4 linked regions of the Homo sapiens genome follow. The protein of the gene in region 2 binds, or shares a complex with, the protein of the main gene of each other region. Each region holds a gene or a part of one and is shown on either strand. Other genes may lie near its edges. The genes, in order: CEP290, TMEM237, TMEM67 and AHI1.

Region 1 (7,696 bases), on a different chromosome or scaffold from region 2:
ACAATTCAAAATAAAATTAATGACAATTACATCCTAGGGAATACAAAAAGACATACCTCCAGTTCATTTTCCAGTTTCATTACTTTAGTTTTTAATTGATTTTCTATTTTTTTAAAAAAAAAGAAAAACGTTTTAATTGATTAGTTACCACAAAACAAACTTTTAAATAAATTTCAATAACAAAATTAATTCTTTTAAAAGAGTCCATCATGATTATAAGGTAACAAAAAGTATTATATGGCAGATCCATAAAATAGGAGTCTAGAAATATTTATTATTAAATGTTATATATTAAAAATAAACTGAATATATATATTTTATAGAATATAATTTAATTTTCTACAGTTTAATGAACAAATGGAATTCATTATTTAATACCATAATAAACTTTTTCCAAGGTGCTTACCAAATTTTGCTTGTTCTTCTCCAGCTTTTTCTACTTCTTCCAAAGCCAGCTCCACTTCTTGAGCTTTCATCTAAACATTAAAAAAAGGTTATTTCAATATGCCTTTATACTGGAATGTAAGCACTGAAAATAAAAATTCTGTTTTATTTGTTATGATCCTTAGTGCCAGCAATGGCTGGCACATGGAGACGTTCAGTAAATATTTGCTGAATAAATAGTTTTTGGTTTTTGTTTTTGTTTTTTTTGCTTTTGAGATAGGGCCTCACTTTGTCACCCAGGCTGGAGTGCAGTGGCACAATCTCAGCTCACTGCAACCTCCTGCCTCCTGGGCTCAAGCAATCTTCCCATCTCAGTCTCCTGAGTAGCTGGGACTACAGGTGCATGCCATCATGCTTGGCGTGCCATCATGCTTGGTGTGCCATCATGCTCGGCAAATTTTTTCGTACAGGCAAGGACTCACTATATTATCCAGGCTAGTCTTGAACTCCCAGGCTCAAGCAATCCTCCTGCCTTGGCCTCCCAAAGTGCTGGGATTACAGACGTGAGCCACCATGCCAGGCAATTTTCTTACTTAAGACTACAATTTCTAGATTTTTAATAGCATGAAACATTTTTGATTCTCCTTTTTACCTCAAGTCCTCAAGTCTTATATCCAGTAATGCAACATCTCCCTTTGTAATGTCTTTCCACTACTTTTTTTCTGTTCCAATTGCTATTATTCTAATCCATAATTTCAGGTTTAAACTCCGCTATAATGTGATGTCTACAAAGCTCCAATTTCCTTCAGTTTGTCCTACATAATATACTCAGTTTTGCCTTCTTAAGGTGTATTTTTGTACCTATCAATTGTGTTTCGAAAACCTTTACTGCCTTCTCAATTGCTGATAGCATAAAATACACCTTTAAGGCCCTCAACAACCTATCTCAAAGTACTTACCCAAGATTTGTTTTCTCTACAGTCTGCTACAAACTTGCTGCACCTTGTTTCCTCAAATATAAAGAATAAACATATTTCCTGTTCTCAGTATTTATTTATGGTAACCAACAGCTCTAGAATTCCCTTACTATCTTACCACTGCATTGCCTTCCACTTATCTAACACTACTCCTCAGTATTGATCCTTTGTGAAGTCTTCTGACATCTCTTAAATCATTTCCCCTCTTAACAAATCCCTATAGCAGTCATTGTCTGCATTTGTCATTTGGACCTCAAGATATATTTCCTTATGTTACTTTTCAACATACTCATTCTATTTCCCCTACACACCCTTTTAGAAACTTTAAGTAGAAACTAGCAATGTTTTATACACTAAAATACTTAATTCACATTTAAATATATTGCATTTTTTAGTGGTGATGTAGATATTACCAGGTATTTTCACAAAGATTACCTTATATAAGAACAGATTTTTATAGTTCCACTAATAGCCAAACCTATAGTTAAAACCTACTACATACAAACCTTCATTAGTGACTGAGTAATTCTGAAAAGGTGTATCACATTTTCTTGCTTTTCACTTTTTAGCTCATTTACTTCCACCTAAGTAAACAGAAAAGCAACTGTTTTATATTTTATAACCTTCAAGCAAAATATAAGAACACTTCCAGATTGTGACAATTATAGTTGTCCCTGAAAAAAATAAATTCATATTTTATTAATAAATTAATCATAAGTTAATGTATATATCTATTATTATTGACCAATTAAGCACCTTGGATAAGGAAATCAATAAATTATCTGCCAGTTCTTCTTGACGGGGCAGGTCATCTGGGTCAACTTTCATTATTTCTTTCCAGTTTATATTAGGTGGCATCTTGAATTCTTTCACTGTGCTCCACCTCTGTAACAAAACAGGTGTATATTAGCATTTTCAAGGTACACAGTATTATTGGTTTTCTAGCACCTTACATTTTTTGCAGATTATTTCATTATAACTTTCTGATGTTAGCAAAACAGACAATTGGGCCACAAAATAGACAAGTGGGCAAAATAGCCTTGATCAAAAATAGCAGTCGGCACAAACTGTCAGAGTGTCCCGGCTAAATAAAATGTGACGGCTTCCTTGCTAACACTAATCTAAGTTAATACTTAAGATTTCTGGATCCCTTCCTCCACACCCCTACCCACAATGCGCGCGAACACCCTAATCCTGGCAAGCGCGAGGGTCTGTGGAAGGCCGACAATCATCCCTGATTTGGAGAAACAGAATTGGGGCTGAAAAAAAACGCAGAAATTAACATTTGGAATGAGTGAAGTTGTGCGGCGGAAACTGGAACCGAAGCAAGGCAGTATTAGGGACCCGAGGCTGGAAGGGCGGGGTAGCTATGCTGTGGCACACGGGCCCTCAGGCTAAAGAACCTGAGCGTGGAGTGACTCGCTAATCCTGCTTACAAGGATCCACCCACCTAGACCAAGCCTGGCAACCAGCGGAGGCCTCTCACTACCGCAACCACCAAGCTGGACCCGGCCGCGGGCCCTGACAGATCCCTATCGCGGTTCCACGCGGACTCTGGGTCCAGCCAAATGGTCCCGAGCAAGCCAAAGCGGCAGCGGCTGCTAGGCGACACCATCCCCAACTCCGCCAAGGCCAGAATAAGATCCCGGATGCCAGGAGAGCCTACAGTTCACGACCGTGGGTGATGCTTTACGTTTAGATTCTCCGCCGGAGTCCCAGAGCTCGGTGTTCAGGATGATGAGAAGGCGTGGAACGAGGACTTCAAATCCCAGAGTGCAGTTCTGCCTGAGGCTTCTGCATGCTGGGAACTGAAGTCCCTGAGAAGAGGAGGTAAGGCGCTCCCGGCATGCAACGCGTAAGACTGCGACGGTACCGGGGCGGCGGGGAAGGACCGAGAGGCGGGAGGAGCAGCGGCTCAGGCGCCTGCAAACTGGTGGCCTGAACGAGGTAGACCATGACTGTGGTTTCAGTGGCGTCACTCGCTGGGCTGCTCTTCCTGAGGTTTTCCTAAGCCATCCCCTGGCGGAACCGCCCCCAGGTGAGGTCGAGCTGTCGGTCAGCATATTGGGAGGAATTGAGGGGAGCAGTCCTGGGTTAGAGAAGCTTCTGCTATTGGGGCCGTAGGGCCTGGTCCCATTCTGAAAAAGTGGGAACACCCTGCCTTCTCTTCAGGCGTTTGCAAGCGGCGTCCAGGGTAGTGCCTTCTGTAAGAAGGAAAAAACAAAAAGTTTTAGCCTTGTTTAGTATCAGAATCTGTCTTGATAGTTAGAGTGAGAGCCGCGCAGCCGTGATCCTCGTTTGGGGGCGAGCGAAGAATTGACAAGAGGTCTCGGCATCCCGACCCCGCCCGCCTTACCTGTAGCACCATTCCTTTCGCGGATCGTGGGGCTTGATGGTTGTGGAGCTAGTATAAAGTCAAGGCTCTAGAGAGGAGAGGTTAGTACTTGTCCGGACCACTGCCGGGGGTGGAGAGAGAAGGGATCCAAGGACTCACCTGTACTATTGTTGCCACTTGCTTGGTTACCTAGGGTGCCCTTCCATGAAAGCGCCTTCTCTGGTGTTTACCACTCTTACTCGTGCAAGTTTTGCTCATCCTGCTCGTCTGCTCACAATCATGCTGGAGTATGATACATCTCTACCTAACTTTCCTAAGAAGCTGTAGACTTAAATCTAAATGACATTTCCAACTATCTGGACCAGTGCTTTGTCTTTTTTTTTTTTTAAACGCTGCTTTAAAAAAAAAATTACTGTACTTGACAGTAAATTTTCCTTTCGAAAATAAGTAATGAGTTTCTTTTTAAACCCCCAATTTGGGTAAAATAAGTAGCTCAGTACAAAATAAAAAGATACTGATTTTGTGAGATGAATTTTAAAGACATTAGTTAGATTTATAGGAATGACAATTTTACTACTTTTCTGAAAGATTATATGCCAAATACTATTCATTATCTTGTTTATTCTTCCTTACAATCCAGTGAAATAGGTGCTTACATTGTCCTCATTTTCCATCTGAGTTAAGAAACTGAGGCTTGGAGAAGCTAAGTAACTTAAATAGTGTGATTGAACACAGATCTCTCTGGCTGGAGGACATATTCTTAACTTCTATACACCTCCTCAGACATTCTGGGAAACCAATATTTGTGAAGTGCTTGTTCCTCAATCTTGCTATTTTTATTAAATGTTATATTTTAATTTTGTAAGTGTTTACTCAATAATTTGAATTAAACATTCTTCATGTTCAGTGTTCTTAATTCATAATTTAACATGGGATGGTGTTTCTGGAAAGGTGTTCTGATCTGGACCCCAGGAGAGGGCTCCTGGATCTCGCCAAGAAAGAATTGGAGGTGCATACACCCCCATTGGAGGTGGTAGACTAAGGATTGTTATAGTTATTTCTTGATTATATGCTAAACAAGGGGTGGGTTATTCATGAGTTTTCTGGGAAGAGGGTAGGCCATTCCTAGATCTGAGTGTTCCTCCCCTTTTTAGACTATATAGAGTAACTTCTTCACATTGCCATGGCATCTGTAAACTGTCATAGCACTGGTGGGAGTGTCTTTTAGGATGCTAATGCATTATAATTAGTGTATAATGAGCAGTGAGAACGAGCAGACGTCCCACCTTTCTCGCCATCTTGGATTTGGTGGGATTTGGCTGGCTTCTTTACTGCATGCTGTTTTATCAGCAAAGTCTTTATGATCAGTATCTTGTGCCCACCTCCTATCTCATCCTGTGACTTAGAATGACTGACAGACATCCTGAGAATGCAGCCCAGTAGGTCTCACCCTTATTTTACCCAGCCCCTATTCAAGATGGAGTTGTTGTGATTCAAATACCTCTGACAATGGTAGGAATGAAATTTAATAGTTACTGAGCACATGTTATGTCATACACTATGCTGACTACTGCGTGTTTGTTTTCATAATAGAAGTCTGTTTTCTCTAACACCTTTTCTTCTGTTTTTTTTTTCATTCGTTATAACTTATTTTTATGTATTCACTTACAAGTTTCGTTTGTCTGTATTACTCTTTTCTACCCTTCTGCCACCACCCTCTTGCTCACATTCATAAACTCAAGGTGCCTGGTCTCTAATGGTAAATTTTATTCTAATTTTTCAGAAGTGAGAACAAGTTCATAGAAGTTAAGTAATAATTGATGAAGCTAAGATTGTAACCTAGATCTCAGTGACAATTGTAACTAAAAGCAAAATCTTACCTAAATTTTATTCTTTAACTCATTCTAACAGTATTTTTTATCCTGTTTCCTGTGCTAGGCACTGGGGATACAGCAGTGAACAAGTCAGCTCTGGCTTGAACAAGTCAACTAAGTTTTTATGCATTGTCGTCTGTACCTAAGTGTGAGTCAGGAAATTTAACTCAGGTTCTAGTTCAATAACTCACTGTATATTTTTGAGGAAAATTGGCAAAACTATTATTTTTCGTCAGATTTTCTGCACCTGTCAGTTTTCATCAAGAAATGGGACTTATGTGACAATGTTGTAAGTGGCCTTGTTATAAGAACACTTGTCTGGACCTGCCTTCTTTCTGCCCTAGGCTTTTGTGAACAGTTTTATCTGACCAAAATCACTTCACAAGAAGGCCTCACCTTTTATTATTGCTTACCTTTGTTCTCTGTAGCAATGAATTTATATTCCTTGGATGTTACTTCTAGTTCCTTTTTGCTGACTTACCAAGAAAAGTCATAGTAGCTTACTTCTCCGATCTCTAAAACAAAGCATGGCCATTTTGTATCCATTGTGTGTCCTAAACATTTTGTTTTGCCTTATCTTCATGGCAAATTAAGCCATGGTTAATGGCTTAATTCACACTGACTCCCTACTGATCTTTCCAGTTTCCTCATGTTGAAGGAAGACAAGTATCTGCTTGCTGCACACTCATTCTTGTCCATGAAATTAAGGCAAAACAATTTGCCTTAATACAATTTACAGTTTTATTGAAGGGATTGTATTTAGTTTTGTATATCTATAATGTAGCTCATGAGAAGTCTTTGTGAACCAAAAAGTGTCTAAGACGGGTCTCAATCAATTTAGAAGTTTATTTTGCCAAGGTTAGGGACATGCCGAAAAGAAATAAACACTGAATCACAGAAACAGTCTGTAGTCTCTTCCTTTCTCTAAGATGATTTTGAGGGCTTCAGTATTTAAAGGGGAAAAATCCATTGGAAGAGAAAAAGGGTAGATATGGTAATCTATGTGTTGCAAGAGAAAAAGAGCAGAGAGGGAAATAGATATTATGTATTCACGTGGGGTGGTAAATCAGCACTTTACGTGAGATAAGATGAATGTCCTAAAGTAGCTACCTGTGGAGATATTTAACATTTGATGTGTAGCTGTCTGCTAAGAACAAAAGGAGAGCAGTTTCTTGCATGACTCAGCTTTCACCCTAATTTTTTCTTATAGACATAATGAATTGAGATCCCAAGTTTTATTTTCCTTTCACATTTCCAATTGCACTTGGATTTTGTGCACATATATAGTAACACCCCATTTTTGTAAGCAAACAGAAATCAGTCATCCCATCCACTTAAACTGCATCTGTAAGTCTGCTTCTGTGCCTAGGAAAAATTAGAAGTTCTCACAACTAACAAGAATAGTGTGTTACATGTTTGCAATAATGGCCCCCAGTGAGTCAGGTCCCCGTCTGCCTATGCCTTTGTGTAAATCTGTCCCTTCCCTGCAACCTCTACTTTGCAGGTGGCTCTTGGAAGTAACCTAAGATGACTCCACAACTGAGCTCGTAACATGCTCTCTCTCCCTTTCTCTCATACTATGCTCCCTTGGGGAATCTTAAAAATTCTGTTATCTTGGCCCTTTTATAACTTCTTCCCCATTGATTCAGGATGTACCTTGCTTGAATAATAATTTTTAAAATACGCACTAAATAGAGCCTTATAAAGAGCTTGTGCATTGAACCTTGCCCTCCTGTTGTCCTGAGATCATCATTTAAGAAGCCTAAGATAACCTATTAGAGGATGTGTTAATAAGTAGCAGAGACTAGTTTTCAAAGCTGAGAAATCTACCCTTTAAAAGCCATCCAGCCCTAATCAAGCCACTGGATAACTATAAGCACATGAGTGACCCCAGGCACAACTAACAGAAGAACCATATACATACCTATATATTTGTGTGTGTGTGTGTGTGTGTATATATATATATACATATATATGTATATATATGTAAAATAAAGATATATTGAAGAATTGAATTATTTTGAATGTATTCATTTTTAAGTACTTCAGATGCCTAACTTAACAAAGAAAACTTTCTCAGTACTTAAATAACTGATTAAATTTAGGAAATAAAACTTGAAACTATA
Region 2 (7,091 bases):
TATTTTCTGAACCTACATATACATATTCCCTACTGTCTATTAATAAAATGGATTAAGCAGATTAAGAACTCTTACTTGTGACTGATTAAAATCAGCTTAAACTCTGAGGAAACTATTCTCACAAAAGACCAGAATTCTGATTTAAAAAAAAAAAGACACCAAAACAGTTAGAAAGGGAATGGATCCATTATCCTACCATGTTGATATTCAGGCTTTTAAATATAACATTCCATTATAACTGTTATTCTTAAAATTCAAGGATTTTTCACCTTTAAAATTTCAGAAAATCCCTAAATTTTTCAGAAGAGTTTCCTGAATCATTGTAATTTTGCAATGATACTAGTCAATTTTTCCACTGTCTTCATTTTCCATTTTTAAAGCTCAATAATGAAATTACTGTAAATTATTTTTACCTTGGCACAGGTGGAAGAGCTCGTGGAGGACGCTGTGGCGGAAAAAATAAATTTGCTTGTAAGTAAAAGCCTAGAGCATCTTTACTTCAAATACCATCACGCTATTTTTTTTTTTTTGAGATGGTGTATTGCTGTGTGGCCCAGGCTGGAGTGCAACGGCACGATCTTGGCTCACTGCAGCTTCCATCTCCTGGGTTCAAGCAATTCCCCTGCCTCAGCCTCCCAAGTAGCTGGGATTACAGGCACCCACCACCATGCCCGGCTAATTTTTGTATTTTTAGTAGAGACGGGGTTTCACCATGTTGGCCAGGCTGGTCTTGAACTCCTGACCTCAGGAAATCCGCCCACCTTGGCCTCTGAAAGTGGTGGGATTATAGGAGTGAGCCACTACGCCCGGCCAAAGCAATTCTTTCAAAAGTCTGTTGTTCAGACATGACAGAAAAATATAATGGATCAGACTAGGATCTTCAAATCTCTTGATAATCTTGTTCATCAGTGAAACCTGGGAGGTACTGATGAGAAACATGGGCAATTTAAAATTTGTTCTCCCATCCTAAATTTCATATAAAATTCCTTCCTTCCTACATTCCTTTCCATCTCTAGGCCAGGCCCTTTTCTAAGCATTAGGAATACACTAATGAACACAATGGAGAGAACTCTGCTCTTATGAAACTTACATTCTAGTGGTTGAGTATTAGAAACAATGTTAAAAATATATATATGATAATATATACTATATATTATATGCAGCATGTACGATAAAATATATTTATATGCTATATTTAAGACATATCTTGTATACATATCGTGTGTGCATATATATATATATACACAAGATACACACACACAAAACGTAATGAATGAAGGAGACTGAGTGCTACTTTTGTTAGGGAAAGTTTCTCTGAGTTTGAGCTGAGACCTGAATGAGAAAGCAGCAACCGGAACAAATGCAAATATTTTTAGGTTAAATTGGGCTTGGAATGTTTCAGGTAAAAGGACAGCAAGGCTGCCGCACAATTACCAAGGAGAGGTAGGCAGGAGCCAGATTAGTTAGGGCCTTGCAGACCAAGGGAAGTTTGGATTTTGTTTTAATTCAATGGGAAACAAATGGAGGTTTTAAACCACATACTAACACAATTTTTAAAAAGGCCAGTTGCATACACTGGGAAGAATGCGTTTTAGGGCAGAAAGAAAGGTGGGGGGAACCCTTCTAAACCCTCATTTACATGAATAAGAAAAGTGTTTGTAGTTCAGACAGCATTACAGTTGAGAAGTATTTTAGAATCATATAGTAACAGAAATGCCTAGAAGCCAATTTAATGTTCCAAGTATCTCATGCTGCTTGCATAAGACATTTATTCAAAAGGGTTAAATTTTAGACACTCTTGTAGTTTGTCCCATTTAGCAATCCATTCGTTCGAACAGTAGATTAATGCAAGTACTACAAGATTAGGACGAGGCAAGCTGCCGTAATACCATCCAGTAGTCAAAATTACAATTGGAGAAGAATGACAGTCACAGGAACGCGCTATTGTTCTAAAGATGCTACGAAGCGCGCGCGATCGATCCCAGGGCTCTGTTCACGTAACTGATTTCAAAAGTCCCGCAAAAATGACGTTCCACCCACCCAGAGACCCAACCTCTAATCCTCAAAAGTAGGACGGCTCAACTGAAGACAAAAATCCTAACAATTAAAAGTAGCTAAGGCTCGCTTACCACAGGATTCTTCCCCATTCTGCGTTTAGCCGGCCTCGGCGGCCGCCGGCCCCCAAGCACCTGGCGCCCCACCCCTCCCGGCTCGGTCGCGCGCGCAGGCGCAATGCGTCATCGGGCCGCGCCGCCTGGCTAGTACCCCGCGCGCAGCGCCCTGCGGGGATGTTGCGGTGAGAGGCGTGCAGGGACCTGGATTGGCCAGTCCAGACTAGCCCTGCCAAAAAGGGGGCCTCGGAGTTGGGGGTAATGTGCCCAGGAGCAGAAATCTGGCGACCGTGGCGCTGCAATCACAGCTTTCCCGTGGTTTCCTAAGTGGTGGCGGTGATTTGTTTGCGGGAAGCGGGGCGTGACGGAAGACCTTAATTAAAGGACTCCGCAGGCGAACAGATCTCTTCTGGGCAGCTACAGACCTCTCCTCGGAGGAGTCTAGGAGAGGCCTGGCTGGAAGCCCCGGCACCCGCCGGGCCCCGGGCCTCAGATGAGTGAGGCGTCGTCGTGGCAACGCGGGCTCAGGTCCCCGCAAACTTCATGCCAGGCCTCTCTCTCCCACTCCGGGAGTTCGGTCCCGGCCTCGCCTGCGTCTCCGTCCCATTCCTGTGAACACTGGAGGGGCGGATGCGCGCACCCCACGAGCAAGGCCCTCCCTTAGTGATTCCCAGCTCGTTGGCGCCCCCCCACACACACCCACCCCCACTGCCAAGTGTAGCTGTTTACCCGCCACCTCTCGAGGCCGACGCGCCCCTCGCCGCTCACCAGGTGGCCCTCCTCCAGCCGAGCCCCCGAGTCAGTCCTCATGGTGCTCTCCCCGCGGGGCTGCCCCGGCGCAACCGCCGGCGGCCCGAGCCCAGCTCCCCGCGACGCAGCGGCCTCCGGGACCTGTGGGACGCCGGGGCTTCGTGGCGCCTGGCGAGGCAGCCGCCCCCTGAGCCAGGTCCCCGCCCGCCTCTGTCCTGCCAGGCGCTGCTGGGTTTGGGAGGAATGCGTTTACTCTCCAGGACCAACGAGTCTGTGCAGGCCTGGGTGTGTGGATGTGTATTAATATAGGCAATTCTCACATTTTCTCCGATTGCTTACCCTTCATCCCACAACTGTGTAAATCAAATTTGGAAAAACTTTTTCTCAACCTTAAAATCAAATCCAACCTCACATAAATATCACTACAAACTACCTGATTTGCATCGTTTGGTTTGGTTGGGTTTGTTTTTTTTTAAAGATAACTTTCACTTTAAGTAACAGAGAACTACAAATATTTTGAATCATGCATTCTGTTTTACAGTTAAGAAAGAAATGGGAAAGATGGAAGAATGGTGTGGATATGGAGAAGAGAATGATGCAGAAGATGAACAGATACAGGGACAGGGAAAGCGCCTGGAAATCTCAAATCTGGGGAAAGAAAGAGAAACAGCACTTTGTAATGGCATCCTAATCTTGTTACCAAACAAACGGGGCTTGTTGCCCTATACGCACAGAAGCCAATATTATGGCGCTGATTTTTTGAGAAAAGTTTTCATTGTGAGTCAGCTAACAAGGAGACAGGAGTATAGCTCTAATCTGTCTCCCTGTGTTGGCTTTAAGACAGTATTTTTATTAGAAAACGTTTAGGGGGTGGATTCTGGGATTAGTAGGTGATTGGTGGAAGGAAAGAAGCCATCTGGAAAATCCTCTGGCGTTCGCAGTTACCTCTTCATGTCCCTTCATGGGTCGCATGTGCAAATTTTGGAGGGAGTCAGTGTGAAACATGGGGAAAGATTCAAGCTGTGACGCCAGCAAGCTCATTTTGTACAGACTCCAGGTAGCCATCCGTGTTAGTACTAACCACTTTCAGCCAGTTTGCTTTGTTTTGTTTTGTTTTGTTTTTTAATCTCACAATGGAAGAAGTTTAGGCGTTTTATTTAGCAAGTTGTTTTTTATCTGCCGTCCTGCATGCTCAAGAATTTCTGTTAGTCCCTGGTTTCTTTAACTCTGAGACACGGTTTCACTCTTGTGATTTTCTATATATAGGTCTCTGGGATTAATCCATTGCCTTTTTCTAATTTAGGCCTGCATGTAGATATTGGCTGTTAAGGAAAATTAGTGTTTGTCACACCTCTCATGAGAATAATTTTTTCCTTGTAGGCCGATTTGTAAATAGTGAAGGCAGTGCAGTTTCTTGTAGGTTTTGATTTTAGATGTGAAATGTGTACATTAAACCTTTCTTGCTGAGTTAGTCAAGTAAGCACTTTTTGTAAAAGATGTTTTCATAAAACACGTTTCATAGAGTACAGTTTCTAAAGTTAACTATTGCTTATTTTATTTAGGAAAGCTCTTTATTTAAATCTTAAAAAGATCATGTGAAATCTGCGAAAGGTTCTCATACTCAGTGACTTAACATTATTCATATTTCTACCACAGCTGCATATGAGGTAAAGGAAAAAAAATTAAGTTAAAATAGGTAACCACATAACCATACAATAAAAATTTTTTTCAAATAAGATTAATTAATAAATTGCTGCACTTTTAAAGTTGTACACATTAAAATGGGTCAAATACTGTTGTTTTAGATTGCAACTATGGATCGCTGTATCAAGGGTACAGTGTTAAAACTCCAGCATTAAACAAGAAGTCTCATTGAGACTCAGTATCTGAGGAAATCCATGTTGCTGGTACCCACTGAGGCTCCTCCTGAGCCTTCTGTATGGCAGACAACAACTGGGCACATGCATCGTGCAAGCTGTCATTCACAATCACATGATCAAAAAATTGGCCAAACTGAGTTTCCATTCTTTGGGCTAAATTTTCCATCTCTTGTAGGTCTTCATCCTTTAGGAGAAATAGAAAAATATGGATAGTACAGACTTAATTGGACAAATGGAAAAAATACAGTTTGTTATGCTGTCACATTCAGTTGTGAAACTATGTATAAAAACAGTAAGGTCCGAAAATTTTGCACAGATGATTTTCAATAAAGTTTCAAAAATATTTTTTCAAAATTCTACAAAACCAGCAAACTAGAAAATAGTAATTTTTTTGCCCTCTGTTATTGAAATAATGTGGCTAAGTATAGATAAAATAATTTTTTTTTTTTTTAGACAGGGTCCCACTCTGTCCCAGGCTGGCATGCAGTAGGATCATCTCAGCTCACTGCAGCCTCTGCCTCCCAGGCTCAAGTGATCCTCCCACCTAGGCCTCCCAAGTAGCTGGGACTATAGGCACATGCCATCATGCCCAGCTAATTTTTGTAGAGAAAATATAATTATTATAACAGGTATAAACATATCCTTCTAAATTAATGTGAAGCATAAGCAAAGCTGGGAAAAGTATATCACTATCCACAGTATGTCATCCTTTATTTCTTAGAAATGTATTACTGAGATAAAGAAATTTTAATTTGGAAGTTTTTTTAAATAATAAAAGACTGAAGTTTTTATTTTAAAAAATGAGGTCCAATAAATGTCTTCTAAACTACAAAACTTATGTTTTAATCTTTAGTCTTAATGTCTCGTCATGTTTTGCAAAATTTAGTCATAGTTTGCAGACAGATTACTCCCCTCAACTTCCCGTGTGAACTTATCTTACTCTTACCTAAACACTTGAAACTTTTTAACCATATACAACATAAAACCAAAGAAAATGTACCAGTTTAAATAAAATTTAAACATAAATTTCAAGTGAACATTAATCTGATAGGGATAACATTAAAGATACAAAATGGCCACTTTCAACATGAGGATGGTATAAGCCAGTTATATTATGTTTCTACTATTGTGAAATGTTCATTTAATGAAGGTAATTTGGCATTCACTTGGCACTAATGCATTAAATTCATTGCTGTTATTTTCTTATTAGTTCATGAAAATAGTACAACTTGTCACCAATACAATCTGAAACACAAATGCAGGCACCAAAATCTTGTGGCTTTACAAAGTGACCATACATATGATCCAGAAACAATTTTGTTAATTTGTTTAGACTGCCATAAAAATGAGAACAATTTTAAATGCCCATAAGACTCAGCAAATACATTCATGGACTCCACTGTTCACAAGGCAAACTGGAAAATCAGACCTCCATAGTCATTGCAAAAAATATGAAAATAAAAATAATAAGAGAAAGGATAATTTAAAGATACCTGTGCTTGCTTTGGTAGCACACAGACTAAAACTGAAACAATGCAGAGATTAGCATGGCCCTTGTACAAGCATGACATACAAATATTTAGTGAATCATTCATATTTTTAGTTTCAATTTTGCCAGGTAAATAAATTCTAGAGCTCTGTTTCACACAATGTGAATATACTTAACACTAAATACTAACACTGAACTGTACACTTAAAACGGTTAATATGGTGAGTTTTATGTATTTTTACCACACATATACACACACACACAAGTGGCTGTAATATCTTGATGTGGGTGATGGTTATCTGGGTGCATACACACATAAAAATTCATTAAACTGTACACTCTGTACACCTTACTGAATGTATGTTATGACACAATATTTAAAGCATATTTAATGTAAAATATATGTACGCAACCGGAAAAAAAATCACCTGTTCTAGGATGAGATCACTGATTAATTTCACTTGGCTTGCCCCCTCTATTATTACCATCATCATTTTACAGATGAGATATACTCACTGAGCATTTTTAAAGTAAGCTTTTAAGTAAAAGATATTCTGTTTAAAATACAAACACCAGGCTCATACATGCCCAATTTCTGTTTGGCTTTGCAAACTACGGCTCAAGGATTTTTTTTTAAGCTAGACCCAAAAAAATAAGAAAGTAAAAAATAAGGGTAGCATCATAACATTTATTAAACTTTATATCTGTAAGTGATGTCCATCCAAAAGGATAAATCGTAAGGGCATTATCCATTAGAAACAAAAATTACATTCTCTAACACAGATCCTGTAGAAACAATACAGTTTTAATTTTTTTTTTAAATAAAACCATAGTAAACCATTTTATTGAGGGCCTTTTGGA
Region 3 (7,696 bases), on a different chromosome or scaffold from region 2:
TGCCTATAATCCTACTTGGGAGGCTGAGGCACCAGAATGGCTTGAACCAGAAAGGTGGAGGTTGCAGTGAGCTGAGATCGTGCCACTGCACTCCAGCCTGAGCAACAGTAATACTCTCTTTCAAAAAAAAAAAAAATTCATTTATGATTCAAAATGGGTAAATTTTATGAAATATATAAATTATACACATAGTTGTTAAAATTGATTTATGAGAATATTTTCTTCTATCCATTTATGGCTTGTACTAGTAAAGGTTTTTTTTTTTTTGAGACAGAGTCTTTGCTCTGTTGCCAGGCTGGAGTGCAGTGGCACAATCTCGGCTCACTGCAAGCTCTGCCTCCCAGGTTCAAACAATTCTCCTGCCTCAGCCTCCCGAGTAGCTGGGACTACAGGCACGTGCCACCACGTCCAGCTAATTTTTGTATTTTTAGTAGAGATGGGGTTTCACCACATTTGCCAGGATGGTCTTGATCTCTTGACCTCGTGATCCACCTGCCTCAGCCTCCCAAAGTGCTGGGATTACAGGCGTGAGCCACCGCGCCCGGCCTAGTAAAGGTTTTTGATAAAGTATGACAGCATTCAAAATTGGGCTTATTATATCATATGGTTTAGGAAAAGCCTGGGGCAAAAAACACAATAATTACAAACACAGATGTAACCAAAGTTTATAAAGAACAAAAATAATGCCACAAATTATTTTAAATTTTGGTTGAAAAGACTGAATTTATCAAGAAATACTCCTATATTTGGCAATACATTTATACAGGACAATTTATTTATTTATTTATTTATTTATTTATTTATTTATTTATATTTTATTTATTTTTTTGAGACAGAGTCTCGCTCTGTCACCCAGGCTGGAGTGCAATGGTGCAATCTTGGCTTACTGCAACCTCTGCCTCCTGAGTTCAAGCGATTCTCTTGCCTCAGCCTCCCAAGCAGCTGGGACTACAGGCACGCGCCACCACAGCCAGCTCATTTTTGTATTTTTAGTAGAGATGGGGTTTCACCATATTGGCCAGGCTGGTCTCAAACTCCTGAGCTCATGATCCACCAGGCTCAGCCTCCCAAACTGCTGGGATTACAGGCATGAGCCACTGTGCCTGGCCTATACAGGACAATTTAAAAATTACAATAACTTAAACAATGTCACTGAAAAAGAAATCTGCTGCGAGACCACTTTTTATTAGCAGCTTTTTATCATGGGTAATTCAGCTAGGATCAATATTTGCAAAGATATAAAATAAATGGTAATCTATTATAATCTATTATAAAGATATAAAATAAATGGTAATATAAAAAGTGGTAATCAGACTTACAAGTAATACAGATAGCTATAAATTGGGACAATTGATAACTTCACATTAAATTCCCAGAATTAATATTTTTTATATGACAATGAGAAGAAACATTACTGTAAATGTCACAACTGTTACACAGACTTTTAATTATCCAACATGATTGAAAAATATATTTATGTTGAGAATTATATATAGTAACTATTTACTAATTTTTTTTAAATTACGATACAATGAAATTACTAACAAAACAGAAACAGACATTATTTAATCTATTAATGCAATTGGTATTTCATGAAATAATTACACCTTAGATATCATTATGAACATCAATAATCATATAAACTGTTGACATGGTAGGTCTAAGACAACTCCACTTGCATCAGTCAAAAGAATATACACATCCCAAATTGCACACATCCCAGACTGCTCTATATATGCCTTATTCATCTAATTTTCTTCATAACCGAGTTATTCTACGAGTAAAAACAAAAACTTAAATTTTTACAGCTTTGTGGTTTTTGGATTTCAGATTTTAAAAGAAATACATTTCTGTTTTCTCCAAGTTTGCATGAAATTTCGCTGATCTCCCAAAACTTACTCTAGTAAAAATAAAATTAGCATAGTAATTTTAAAGTCTGTGGGGAAACATTAAACATTAAATTATATTTTGAAAAATAAAGATATTTAACTTACTACTTTTTACAGGTAAGTTATTTTAAAATAAATTATGCGCACCATGTTTTCTGGGCACTTTTTACAAATAATAGCAGGTCCTCCATTATTAGAGATCATCTGAAATCCTGGTAGACATACACATGAAGTTCCTAAAAAAAAAAAAAAAAAAAAAAAAGCCAATTTTATCCTTGATAAATAAAAATAAAGTTCCCAGATAGTGAAACTTTTAATAAGTCTGAAGATCTTGAGAAGCAGTATAGTGATTAACAGCAGGATTCTGGAGGCAGTACTGCCTGGGTTCAAATCCAGAAATACACTTCTTGAGTTCCAATCGTAGTAATCCTACTCAGTTGCATGACCTTGAACAAGTTACTAAACTCTCTGCCTTGGCTTCCTCTACAATAAAATGGAGAAAAAAAATTGGTACCTACCTCACAGGGTTAGTATGAGTACAAAATTAGTTATTATACGTAGAGGTCTTACACTGGCACACAGCTGGTATTATGCTGCTACCATTTTAAGTGCAAGTATAACTAAACTATTAAACTACTTAACTGCTGCTGGAAATTTTACATTTCTACGTCACTAAACAATATACATGTATTCGGGCCAGGCGCGGTGGCTCACGCCTGTAATCCCAGCACTTTGGGAGGCGGAGGCGGGTGGATCACCTGAGGTCAGAAGTTCGAGACTAGCCTGATCAACATGGTGAAACTCCATTTACGGGGACTAGGGGCCGACCAAGGCGGGAGTGTTACTTTTGCCAGGGCCCACCGCAAACCGTCTTACCTCGGGCATCTTGCCTCTGGTTAGCTCCACAAGGAACACACGAGAGGGCGGAGATATCAAAGTACTGGTTGTTGTCGCACTTCTCCGGCTGCTGGAAAGGGAAAGAGAAGGTCTGGGCCTGTAAGAAGCGAGGGAGGAACAACAGAAGGAACGCGGTCACGGCCCGGGCGGATAAGAGGGACCAAACCGCCATTGCCACCCCAGCCCCACCGCGCGTCGCCATGGTACCGACGCTGGAAGCCTCACAGCCTCCAGCCCCCCATCAGCCTCTGCGGCGGCTTCGCTGAGCTGATTGGACAACCCAAGTCCGGGTACCGGAAGTCACTGCTCGTGTTGCTTGGTTGCTAGGTTACCAACCCTGCGCGAAGTTGGCAGGTCCAGTAAAGAATGGGTTAGAGACCGGTTAACCCTGGAGCCCAGCGATATTTTCAAACGTGTATAGAGTTCCTCTACTTACGATAGGGCTGCCCCCTCCCCGCAATAAACCCATCGTAAGTTGAAAATATCATAATTTGTCGAGTTATAGTTACATCAGAATTTATTCAGACTAGGTAATTTTCACGTTAAAGGAAACATGACTTGTAGTTTAACAATTTGATGTCAAAAAACCCCACTGACTTAAAACCCAGTGAAGGATTACTATAGCTCAAAGACTGAAAAAATAAAAAAACTTTCCTGCCAGGTTTGAGCATAGGAAATCATGTATGCGAGACAAAGTACGAAACGGAAGAAACCATGTTTGCTCATTCTGTTGCCAGCGAAATTTCACAAAGCCCCTGACTCAGTGACTGAACGCAGTCCTCCAGAAGAATGCCCTGAAGACAATAAGTAGGATAGAGCACAAGTTTTCACATCTGTTGCTTGAATCACTTCATTTTTTAAAAAGATACAGTCAGCGATCCTAGCTCTTGCCTCTTCCTGTACGTAAGATAACGTGTGACAGGATTAATGATTATGCCTCTGTAATCTATAACCAGATGTAGTCTCCAAACAAAACTTTGATGAGATTTTGCTCCAACGTAACTTCTGAGCACGTTTAATGTAACTTTTGAGCACATGCAGAACTCCATCCCTTGATGTAGAAACTGGGGGCAGAACAGCTGCTTTGGACCAGTATAACATAAACTCTTTGAAAGACTCTCCAGGGTTGCATTCCTCAGTAAGACTCCGAATAAAACTAACTTTGAGTCTTTAAAAGCCTGATTTTTTTCTTTAGTTGACATGTATATAAAATGAGATCACCTTTACACCTTTTGTGAATAAAGGAATCTAAGCCTGGTGCTGTGGCTCACACCTCTAATCCTAACATTTTGGGAGGCCACAGTGGAAGGATTGTCTGAGCCCAGGAATTCAAGACCAGCCTGGGCAACATAGTGAGACTCCACCTCTACAAATAAAATTTATTTTAATTAGCTGGGTGGGTGGCACATGCCTATGGTCCCGGTTGCTTGGAAGGCTGAGGCGGGAGAACCACTTAAGCCCAGGAGGTCAATGAGCCCAAAGGCTGCAATAAGCTATGATCGTGCCACTGCACTCCAGCCTGGATGTCAGAGACCCTATATAAAAAAAAAAAAAAATCCTGGACAAAAATATGGAAACGTTTAGAGTTAGAGACCACTTGCGAGGCTAAGGTAGAAATCTAGAGTCTAAATTGGAGCCATGGAGGAAGGGAGAGGCAGAAGAGGATGAATAAAGGAGCTATTCAGGAAGAAGAATTATAAGAATTTTATTATTTGGACATAGGAAGTAAACAAACAGAATCAAGGATAACTTCCAGGTTTCTGATTTGGGTGGCTGGGTAGACGGTTGTGATATTAAAGGAAGATACCTGTGGTAGATAGCTTCTAAGCGAAAACTTATTGGATAAAGAAAATTTTAAGGTAGAAATGAAAGTTATAGGAATATTTAACATGGTGGGAGCTAGAGGTATGGATAATAATAGAAATAATAGGTATTAATAGCTTGTTTTTGTTATCAAGCAAATGAGCTCTCTATCCAATGCATGCACAGAAGCCAATACTATGTGGCACAAGCTTTTGAGGAAAAAAAGTCTTTATTTGCACAACTGGTCAGCAAGGAGATAGGAGTGCATTCAAATCTGTTTCCCTGATTTAGAGTCTGGGGTAAACTTATGGGCTTGGAAAGCCAAGGGAAGAATTTAGGAATGTGTCTTGGCAGGCAGAATGGAGGACTTGAAATTTGACCATTTAGAAAAAGGTACGTAGAGGCCGATTTTAGGCCTGATCCTCCAGGCAAATGGACCCAACACTTTTGAAAGAGTTCCAAGTTCAGGTTCCAGTCATGTCCCGGTCTTGGTTCCAAGGAAAGGATTCACTGGTTTTGGGTGTTGTTAGAGGTCCAGGCTTTTTCTATTGCACATGACTGGGCTACATGACTTTCAGTTTTTGGCTCTGTTACATCTAAAAGGTAACACGACATTTTGTTATCAACAGAGTAGGCTCAGTTTGGGCTAGTCCCATGGAGACACTTTTAATGTGTCCGGCATTGCAATATCTCATTTGATCCTAAATTGGGACTGTTATCATCACCTTTAATTTACAGATGAAATAACCAAGGCTTAGAAAGTATAAGTGACTTTCTAAGGTCACACTTAATTCATGGTTCTAACCCTGGTAATTTGACACCAGAGCCCATACTTTTCTTCGGGTTTTTGTTGTTGTTGTTGTTGTTTTAAACTTTAATTTAGGTTCAGAGGTACATGTGCAGGTTTGTTATATAGGTAAATTGAGTGTCTCGGGGGTTTGGGGATCAGATTATTTCCTTACCCATGTGATAAGCATAGAACCCAATAGGTAGTTTTTTGATCCATACTCTCCTTTCACCCTCCACCCTCAAGTAGTACCCAGTATCTATTGTTCCCTTCTTTGTGTCCACCTGTACACAATGTTAGCTCCAACTAATAAGTGAGAACACACAGTATTTTATTTCTTTCCTGTGTTAGTTTGAGATAGGAGGTTGGCAGGACTGATTTCACAGGATAAGATCATAAAGACCTGGCTGATAAAACAGGATAGGTAAAGAAGAGGACTGAAACCTGCTAAAACCAAGATGGTGACCAAAGTGACCTCTGGCCATCCTCACTGCTCATTATATGCTAATTACAATGGATTAACATGCTAAAAGACACTCCCACCAGCACCTTGACAGTTTGCCCCTTGCCATGCCCACTTAGAGAAGTTACCCTACATGGTCTAACAAGGGAGGACGCTCCGTTCCAGGAATTCCCCACCTTTTTCCTGGAAAACTCATGAATAATCCACCCCTTGTTTAGTATATGATCAAGGAATAACCATAAATATACTCAGTCTAGCAGTCCTTGCCATTGCTCTGCCTATGAAGTAGCCACTCTTTATTCCTTTACTTTCTTAACAAACTTGCTTTCACTTTATTCTGTCAGATTGCTCTTGAATTCCTTCCTGCATGAAGCTGAGAACCCACATGGCCACTCAGGCTGAACCCTGATTTTGAGGTTTTCTCTGTGACAAGTTTGCTTTGGATAATGCAGAGCCCACACTCTTAAGCCCTGCTTTTTATTGTTGCCTTTGAATCTCTGGATGTGCTTTTCTGGGCAGGAATAAAGAAAAGCTAAAGGCAAGTAAGTTCAAGATGAGATTAATGAATTAAAATATTACAAAGAAGGTGAAAAACAGAAGTGGAGGTTGTGGTGAGAAAGGGGAATTAGTGAGGTTCAGATCTTACATCTGGGGCACTTTGTGTGGTGAACCCTGTGTTCATTCCCAATCTCCAGACACTTAGTGCCCTTTTGATTTGTTAATCTTTTGTGTGTAACTTGTTTTTTACTTTCTTGAAGTCTTCAGGATGTTCCTCTCTGTGCCCCACCTTCTCATTTTTCTTAATTTTACAGTGATGTGTCTGGGCATGTTTCATTGTCATCTTTTGTGTGGAACACCTGTTGTAACTTTGCAATTCAGCAAAGAAACTCATGTCCTTTAACACTGGGAAATGATCTCTTCTACTAATTATTCCTTTGAAGACTTTCTCTCCGTTTTTTTTTTCTTCTGGACACCCTATTTTTCAGATACTAGACTTCCTGGACTGTTCCTCTAATTTTCTCAGATTATGTTTTCATTTTTCTTTTCTTTTTTCTTTTTTTTTTTTTTTGAGACGGAGTCTCGCTCTGTCGCCCAGGCTGGAGTACAGTGGCGGGAGGCGGGATCTCCGCTCACTGCAAGCTCCGCCTCCCGGGTTCACGCCATTATCCTGCTTCAGCCTCCGGAGTAGCTGGGACTACAGGAGCCCGCCACCTCGCCCGGCTAATTTTTTGTGTTTTTAGTAGAGACGGGGTTTCACCGTATTAGCCAGGATGGTGTCAATCTTCTGACTTCGTGATCTGCCCGCCTCGGCCTCCCAAAGTGCTAGGATTACAGGCGTGAGCCACCGCGCCCGGCGTGTGTGTGTGTGTGTGTGTGTGTGTGTGTGTGTCGGAGTTTTTTTGCTCTTGTTGCCCAGGCTGGAGTGCAATGGCACGATCTCTGCTCACTGCAACCTCCACCTCCTGGGTTCAAGTGATTCTCCTGCCTCAGCCTCCCGAGTAGCTGGGATTACAGGCATGTGCCACCACGCAGGGCTAATTTTGTTATTTTTAGTGGAGTCGGAGTTTCTCCATGTTGGTCAGGCTGGTCTCAAACTCCCGACCTCTGGTGATCCACCCATCTCGGCCTACCAAAGTGCAAGGATTACAAGCGTGAGCCACCGCGCCCAGGCTTCATTTTTCATTTTGTTTTGTTTGGTTCTACTTTCTGGAAGATTTTCCTGCGCGTATCTGTCAAACATTGAATTGAACTTTTCATTTCTTCTATTATAAATTTAATTTCTAAGAGCTCTCTTTTGTTTTCTGGCTATAGCTTAATTATGGCATTCTTGAATTCTTCCATGCTGCAATATCTTAT
Region 4 (7,024 bases), on a different chromosome or scaffold from region 2:
ACAGAAGTAAAAAAAAAAAAAAAAAAGATTGATAATAAAGAGATTAAATCTTGATTTGTATCAAGGCAAGCAAAATGATAAGGCATAAGGACTGAAAAAGAAGCGATAAAACTATCGTTATTAACGTATTACATGATTGCATATGTAGAAAAATCCAAACAATGTAAGAATAAACTCTGTGGGCCGCGATAGCTCACATCTGTAATCCCAGCACTCTGGGAGACTGAGGTGGGAGAACTGCTTGAGCCCAGGAGTTTGAGACTAGCCTGGAAAATGTAGTGAGACCTTGTCTCTACAAAAATTAGCCAAGAATGGTGGTGCATGCCTGTAGTCCCAGCTACTTGGAAGACTGAGGTGGGAAGATCGCTTGAACCTGGGAAGTATAAGTTGCAGTGAGCTGAGATCACGCCACTGCACTCCAGCCTGAGTGACAGGGCAAGACCCTGTCTCAAAAATAAATAAATAAATAAACTCTTGCAATAAGTGAATTTAGCAAATCAATGGACACAATGTTAAAAAATTTTAAATACATTTCTACATATATGTACCAGCAACAAATACAAAACAAAAATTTTTTAAATGCCATTTATAATATCATTAAGAAACATCAAATCCCAGGAATAAATCTAAGGAGAGATTCTGCTGAAATGTATATTGCTGGGATATATTAAATAAGATGCAAATAAATGGAAGTGCATACCAAATTCATAGCCTGAGAATCAATACTGTGTAAAAATGTCAAGTCTCTTTAGAGAGTTGTTATGCTGTGACTCTTTAGATTCACCCAGTCTAGATCAAAATCACAGCTTGCAAGACAGAATGAGGGTAAAAAGGAAGAGGGAGAATGGAGAAGCTCTTCTAAAATCCATACAGAAATGCAAAGTAAAGAATAGCCTAGACAATGCAGATGAAGAAGGAAAAACCTAGAGTATAATACTAAATAGCAAGACCTATTAAAAAGCTACAGTATTTAGACATGGTAGTGTTGGTACAAACTGTCTAATTTAAAAGAATAGAGACTACAAAAACTGATCCACATGTAACACAGTCATGTTATTTATGGGAAAAGTGACACTGCAACACAGAGGGAAAAAGACACTCTCTTCAGTAAATGGTACTGGGTCAATCATAATATATATTCACATGGATATCTTGATCACTGCTTCCTATCATAAACATAAACCAATTCCTGATGAACTGCATATCTAAATGTGAAAGTAAAACAGAAACAGTAAAACTTTTAGAATAAAACTTTTAGAAAAATATCTTCAGAACTTAGGAAAGATTTCTTAAATCACAGCACTTACCATCAAAGGAAAAAAATGGATAAACTGGACAATACAAAAATTTCTGTTTTTCAAAAGACACCAATGAGAGAGAAATAATCAAACCAGAGTAGGACGACATTTGCGATATAAATGTGGGTAGGTATTTATATCTGAGAATAATCTCATATTGAGGTATATAAACCTATCACTACAAATCAATTAGAAAAAGACAATTCTGTGTTTTAAAAAATGCAGACAACTTGAATATATTTACAAATGTCAAAATCTAAGTAGTTAATAAACATGAAAACACTCAACTTCAATAGTTACCATGGAAATAAAATTAAAACCAAAATGAATATCACTATACATTCCTGAAGAATGAGGAAAATTTAGTCACTCCTAAGAATGACTAAAACGTTAAAAAACAGTATTACATGTTGGTAAAGATGTGGAGTGACTGGAACTCTCAAACACTGCTAGTGTCAACTGGTAAACCAACTTTGGAAAACTGGAAGTAATTATTAAAGCAAAAAATATACATAATCTATGACAGCAATTCTACTCCTAACAATATGCCCAAGATAAAGGTATGCATGTGCTTACCAAATACGTGACTGCAATGTGAATTACCGCTTTACTTATAATTGCCTAAAACTAGAAACAACTCAAATGACCATCAATAAAATAGGCAAATTAACTGTGGTATATTCACACAATGGATATCTAAATAATACAAAAACAGAATTAAGAATGAATAAGCTCAACTGTATGCAAGCAACAGTAGTATAAATCTTACAAAATTAACATTGAGTAAAAAAAGTCAGGCACAAGGAGCACAGTATTTATCATTCTATTCATATTAAAGTATAAAAATAAGCAAAAATAAACTCTGTTAGATGTCCAGGTAGTGGTTACTCCCACAGGGCAACTAACGGGAAGGTGATTTTTCTGGGTGCTAATGATGTTCTGTTTCCAAATTTAGGTAATGATTTTATAGGTATGTTCAGTTTGTGAAAAAAACTTTAAAAATATGTATATGAGTATACTGCTTAGTGCTTTATATATATAGAAACACATAAAACAAGTATACTGCTTAGTGCTTTTCTATATATATCTATATACACATTATGCTTCAACAAAAGATTTTAAAATTTTAATTATAGAAACCACAAAACATCATCACTTACATCTTCTAATGAATAAGTACTATAAAATCTAAAATTGCCCATTTTAATCCCAATTTTTGGCCAATCAAATGGAAACTGAAAGACTAAAAAAGGATGTATGAGTAGAAAAGAACATGTAAAGAAAAATAAGAGAAAACAAACAAGAAAAGAAGAAGACAGAAATCAACAAGGCAAAGAGAAAAGTTGAGAAAGGAAAGAAGTGGTATTAGGCTGACGAATTGGGAGGATACCATGTTGGACAGGATGCAGCCTTAACATCAGAAATGTTTATTGGCTGCTGACCATTTATAGCTTTCAACAACTGAGTCCTAACCATTTAGAGGATGTAAACTCAATGGTTTAAAGAAGAAATCCTCTATGACCCAATAGCAACTACAAAGTCAGTATCATTTTAGAGTTGAATTTAAAGTATGACAAGAATCAGAGAAGGTCAGGCATGGTGGCTCATGCCTGTAACCCCAGCATTTTGGGAGGCTGAGGCAGGTGGATCACTTGAGGTCATGAGTTCGAGACCAGCTTGGCCAACATGGTGAAACCCCGTCTCTACTAACAATACAAAAATTAGCCGGGTATGGTGGCATGCATCTGCAATCCCAGCTACTCAGGAGGCCGAGGCAGGAGAATCGCTTTAACCCGGGAGGTGGAGGTTGCAATGAGCCGAGATCGTGCCACTGCATTCCAGCCTGGGAGACAGAGTAAGACACCATCTCAAAAATAAAAAAAATCAGAGAAGACTCAAGTGATACAAACTCATCAGAGACCTACAGCTACAAATACATGTGTGCTTTAATCTAGATGAATTCAAGAACAAGTACCAAATATCCTATATTGAATTATTTTCAAGTATACCCATCAGTTTTAAAGGGCTAAAATTCCTAGAATCAAGTTATTTCTACCAACATACACAATTTTTCATTTAATTTGTATAGCAAACCTGCTTTAGTCTTCTTTTTTGTTTTTTTTGGTTTAGGTTTTGTATCATCTTGCATGCTGTCTTCTGTGCTTTGTTCCATTGAGCTTATTTCATCATCTTGATGAGAATCTGAAGAAACTGATCTAACTGAAGATTCTTTCTTTTGTTCACCTTCAACTGTGTCACCAGAGATGGTCAATGTACTACAAATATAATCCAAGTATCAGCCATTACAGATATATTATCATTATAATTATTATTCATGATGCAACAGAGTGAACAGTAAATAGGAGCAAAGATAATCCTAAAATCACTATTATTGTCTCTTGAGAGATGCATGTATTTTCTTATACACTAAAATGGTTAAGTGTCAAATAGGTATCATAGGTGGTATTTTATACTTCGTGAGGAGTTACACGATTCAACTAAAACTGAGCTCTAAACCCCAGGGGAAAGGGAAATTGTATTAATATTTTATGAGCAATTGATCTCTCTTTACATAGGACTTATCAAAGCATGCCCACCCTGCTGCCAAGTAAATGATTTATCAACCAATTTTTAAATTACCTTATTTAAAGGTATAAAAAGTATTCTAGGTTTGTTCCGTCTTCAAGAGGCTTCACATGCACAACTTTTGATTTCTCTTTTTTCTTTTCTTTTTTTTTTAAGACTGGGTTTCGCGCTGTCGCCCAAGTTGGAGTGCAGTGGTACAATCATAGCTCACTGCTGCCTCAACCTCCCAGGCTCCAGCAATCCTCCCACTTCTGCCTCCCAAATAGCTGAGACTACAGGCACCATACCTGGCTAATTTTTGTAATTTTTGTAGAGATGGACTTTCACTATGTTGCTCAGGCATGGATTTCTAGGTAAAAATTAATTCCTTGGTGAGTCACTACATTTTCAGAAGGCTATTACTAAAATTAAAATCTATATCACATGAACTAGTAAATGGTAAGAAGTAGCAACCCAGAAGCATACTGAGTTTAAAGAAAAACCAGCCTACTAACATTTTAATGTATCTAGTAAAAAATCTGCATGTAAATAATAAAAAATTAATTTCCAATATTTTTAGTCATATTTCAAAAAAAAAATGGGTTGAGGAAAGTAAGACTAGAGAAATATTTCAAATTAGTCATTCCAGAAAGCCATTCTATTTGATCACATCACCAAACCCTGTTCTTTAAGGAGAACAGCTACCCTTTGCGTGCCACTGTCACGTGTTATTAAAAATTCATGAGCTAACCCTATTTCATATTGACTATGGCTTACCAGTCTACCACAGAGGTGGTAGCTATGAGAAGGAAGATTTATAGTATACTATGGTAGGAAGCCTCTAAGATGGACCTTACTGATCCCCACCTCTTCATATTCATGTCTTTGTGTAATCCCCTTTCTTTTGTGTGTGGGCTGGACTAGTGACTTACTTCTGACAGACAGAATATGATAAAAGTAATGAATGCCACTTATAAGATTAGGTTCCAAAAAGACTGTGACTTCTGTCTTGCTCTCACTCTCTCAGAGCCCTTGGTCTGGGGAAGCAAGTGGCCATGTTGTGTGTAGACCATATGGAGACAGTCCATGTGGCAAGGAACTGGTATACCGGGCCCAAAGCCAGTCAGGACCTGAGGCCTACCAACAACCACATGAATGAGCTTAGAACTGGATCTTCTAAGGCCTTCTAACAGCTATGTCACTTGACAGATCCTCCCCCAGTCAAGGCTTGAGGTGACTTCAGTCCCAGCTAACATCCTGATTGCAACCTGTGATTGACAGAGACACCCAGTGAAGTCACTCTCAGATTGCTGGCCCACAGAAACTCTGAGACAGTAAATGCTTGTTGTCTTAAGCTGCTAAATTCTGGGATCATCTTTTTAATGGAGCAACAGATAACTAATATATACTATCATGTCCCTGCAGCAACTTGGTTTGCCGTATCTTTATTACCACCGGTCACCTAGCTTTTGAAAAGAGGGGAATTATTTTTGGCTGAGGGCTTTAGGGGAAATTGATGCTGAATGCCAAAGAATAGTCACATATAAAATGTTCCCACCTCAAGTTGTTTCTCTAGAGGAGAACTGCAGGGGGGAACAAAGTTAATTATAGCAGTTAAAAAGCATTTTTACCTTATTGTTTTCTCCAAATAGAAAACATATAAATATGTGTATGTTCACTTAACCTCACACTCTATATAGAAGTACATACATATATAAGCATCATATAGAGAAAAAGATTAGAATACCAAATTGCCAATAGTGATTATCTTTGAATAGTTTTTCTACAATGAGCTAATGTTATCTGTATAAGAAAAAAAGTTATATTTATATATCCAAACAGGTATTTGTAACTCAAAAAAGGGGAAGTAATTAGGTTTCTATTACTTTGAAAGCAGATGTAAGTGAGTAGTTCAGGGTAGGGACAAGGATCTGGCTCAGCCTCTTACTAGTTCTGTACTTCCATTTCCTCATCAGCAAGATAGGAAGAATATTACTTTTCCTTATAAGATTGTCATAAGAAATAAATGAGTTAATTCTCGTAAAGCACCTAGTACATAGTAAGGTGTTATGTAAAAGTTAGCTGTTCTTATCTTAGTGACAATGTCTCCAAATAAAAGCGTAAGAATTTTCTTTGTTAAACCACAGATAATATTCAAAACCTGAAAATAACAGTGTTTTTCTAAGAGGATATTTTACATTTATCAATGCAAAAATACCTTGTTTCAGCTTTAGAGAAGACTGGAACTTCCTTTTTCTTTTTCCTTTTTTCACTGCTTAGTTTGTCATCATGGAATAAAGTATCTGAGGGAAAGTAAGTCAACTGTTCTTTCAGTTTCTTTCTTATTTTCCTCTTAATCTCCTTTGCCATTTCTTCAGTTACATGGCACTGATATGCTTGCATCAATTCTTCATCCTCTTCTAAATCAGTCTCTTCTCTTCCCTCATTTGCCTTCTCACTTTTCTGATGATCAACGCCTGGCTGTGGCTTTGTATGTGTTTTCTGGTGTGTAGAATCAACCTTATTCTCAGGAGTTTCCGGTTTCAGGTCTTGTGTAGTCAACTGGGGCACCGTCTTTATCACCTTTTTATTTGGCTTTCCTTGTTTGTCTTCCTCTACACTAGCATCACCATTAGGATTTTCAGTTGCTAACTGTGTGTTCCTCAATTTGTTTTTAGTGACTCTCGTGCTCTTCTTCAGGTTGTTAGTGTTAGCAGCACTTACATCATCACTTGTAGTTTCTTTAATATGGGGAAGATTGCTTCTAATAGTGTCGGGCTAGGAAAAGAAGACATGATAACAAAGTTTCAGTTACACATAGATTAGTTATATAAAGAAAAACCTAATAATTAATATTTGACAATGTGGAATTATTGGGAGGATTATTTAGTTTTTCATCTGGACATAGTGACACTATTTTAGAGCATATGAGTACTCTCATAATTTATGCTTCCAGAATTTGATTAGTAATCTCTGAATGTAACTTCAGATTAAATGAGTTAATTGACATGGGAAAAAAGTACTTAAGGACCTATAAGAAGTGAATTAATTGCTCAAATCTCAAATGCTATTTTCCTCATACATATTTTCCTCATGATCTACACTCTAATAGATATTCGAGAAATTGCTAAAAGAGCCATTGAATGTGACATTTCAGGTCA

The links.
Region 1: TMEM237 (region 2) and CEP290 share a complex: the UniProt entries of both Homo sapiens proteins name them as parts of the tectonic-like complex.
Region 3: TMEM237 (region 2) and TMEM67 share a complex: the UniProt entries of both Homo sapiens proteins name them as parts of the tectonic-like complex.
Region 4: TMEM237 (region 2) and AHI1 share a complex: the UniProt entries of both Homo sapiens proteins name them as parts of the tectonic-like complex.

The regions. Positions count from the first base shown.
Region 1 is NC_000012.12:88,139,089-88,146,784, forward strand, and holds the start of CEP290 (centrosomal protein of 290 kDa), read right to left. Parts: upstream 3,001-7,696; 5' UTR 2,812-3,000; intron 2,787-2,811; exon of another isoform or gene 2,645-2,786; intron 2,247-2,644; 5' UTR 2,220-2,246; coding exon 2,118-2,219; intron 1,946-2,117; coding exon 1,868-1,945; intron 477-1,867; coding exon 407-476; intron 104-406; coding exon 57-103; intron 1-56. UniProt on the Homo sapiens protein: Involved in early and late steps in cilia formation. Its association with CCP110 is required for inhibition of primary cilia formation by CCP110.
Region 2 is NC_000002.12:201,640,480-201,647,570, forward strand, and holds the start of TMEM237 (transmembrane protein 237), read right to left. Parts: upstream 3,025-7,091; 5' UTR 2,922-3,024; coding exon 2,880-2,921; intron 2,192-2,879; exon of another isoform or gene 2,148-2,191; coding exon of another isoform or gene 2,130-2,147; intron 446-2,129; coding exon 414-445; intron 1-413. Other genes in the region: MPP4 (MAGUK p55 subfamily member 4), read right to left, coding at 4,731-4,925. UniProt on the Homo sapiens protein: Component of the transition zone in primary cilia. Required for ciliogenesis.
Region 3 is NC_000008.11:93,750,207-93,757,902, reverse strand, and holds the start of TMEM67 (meckelin isoform 1 precursor), read right to left. Parts: upstream 3,010-7,696; 5' UTR 2,989-3,009; coding exon 2,766-2,988; intron 2,126-2,765; coding exon 2,037-2,125; intron 1-2,036. UniProt on the Homo sapiens protein: Required for ciliary structure and function. Part of the tectonic-like complex which is required for tissue-specific ciliogenesis and may regulate ciliary membrane composition.
Region 4 is NC_000006.12:135,459,733-135,466,756, forward strand, and holds part of AHI1 (jouberin), read right to left. Parts: intron 6,642-7,024; coding exon 6,082-6,641; intron 3,575-6,081; coding exon 3,393-3,574; intron 1-3,392. UniProt on the Homo sapiens protein: Involved in vesicle trafficking and required for ciliogenesis, formation of primary non-motile cilium, and recruitment of RAB8A to the basal body of primary cilium.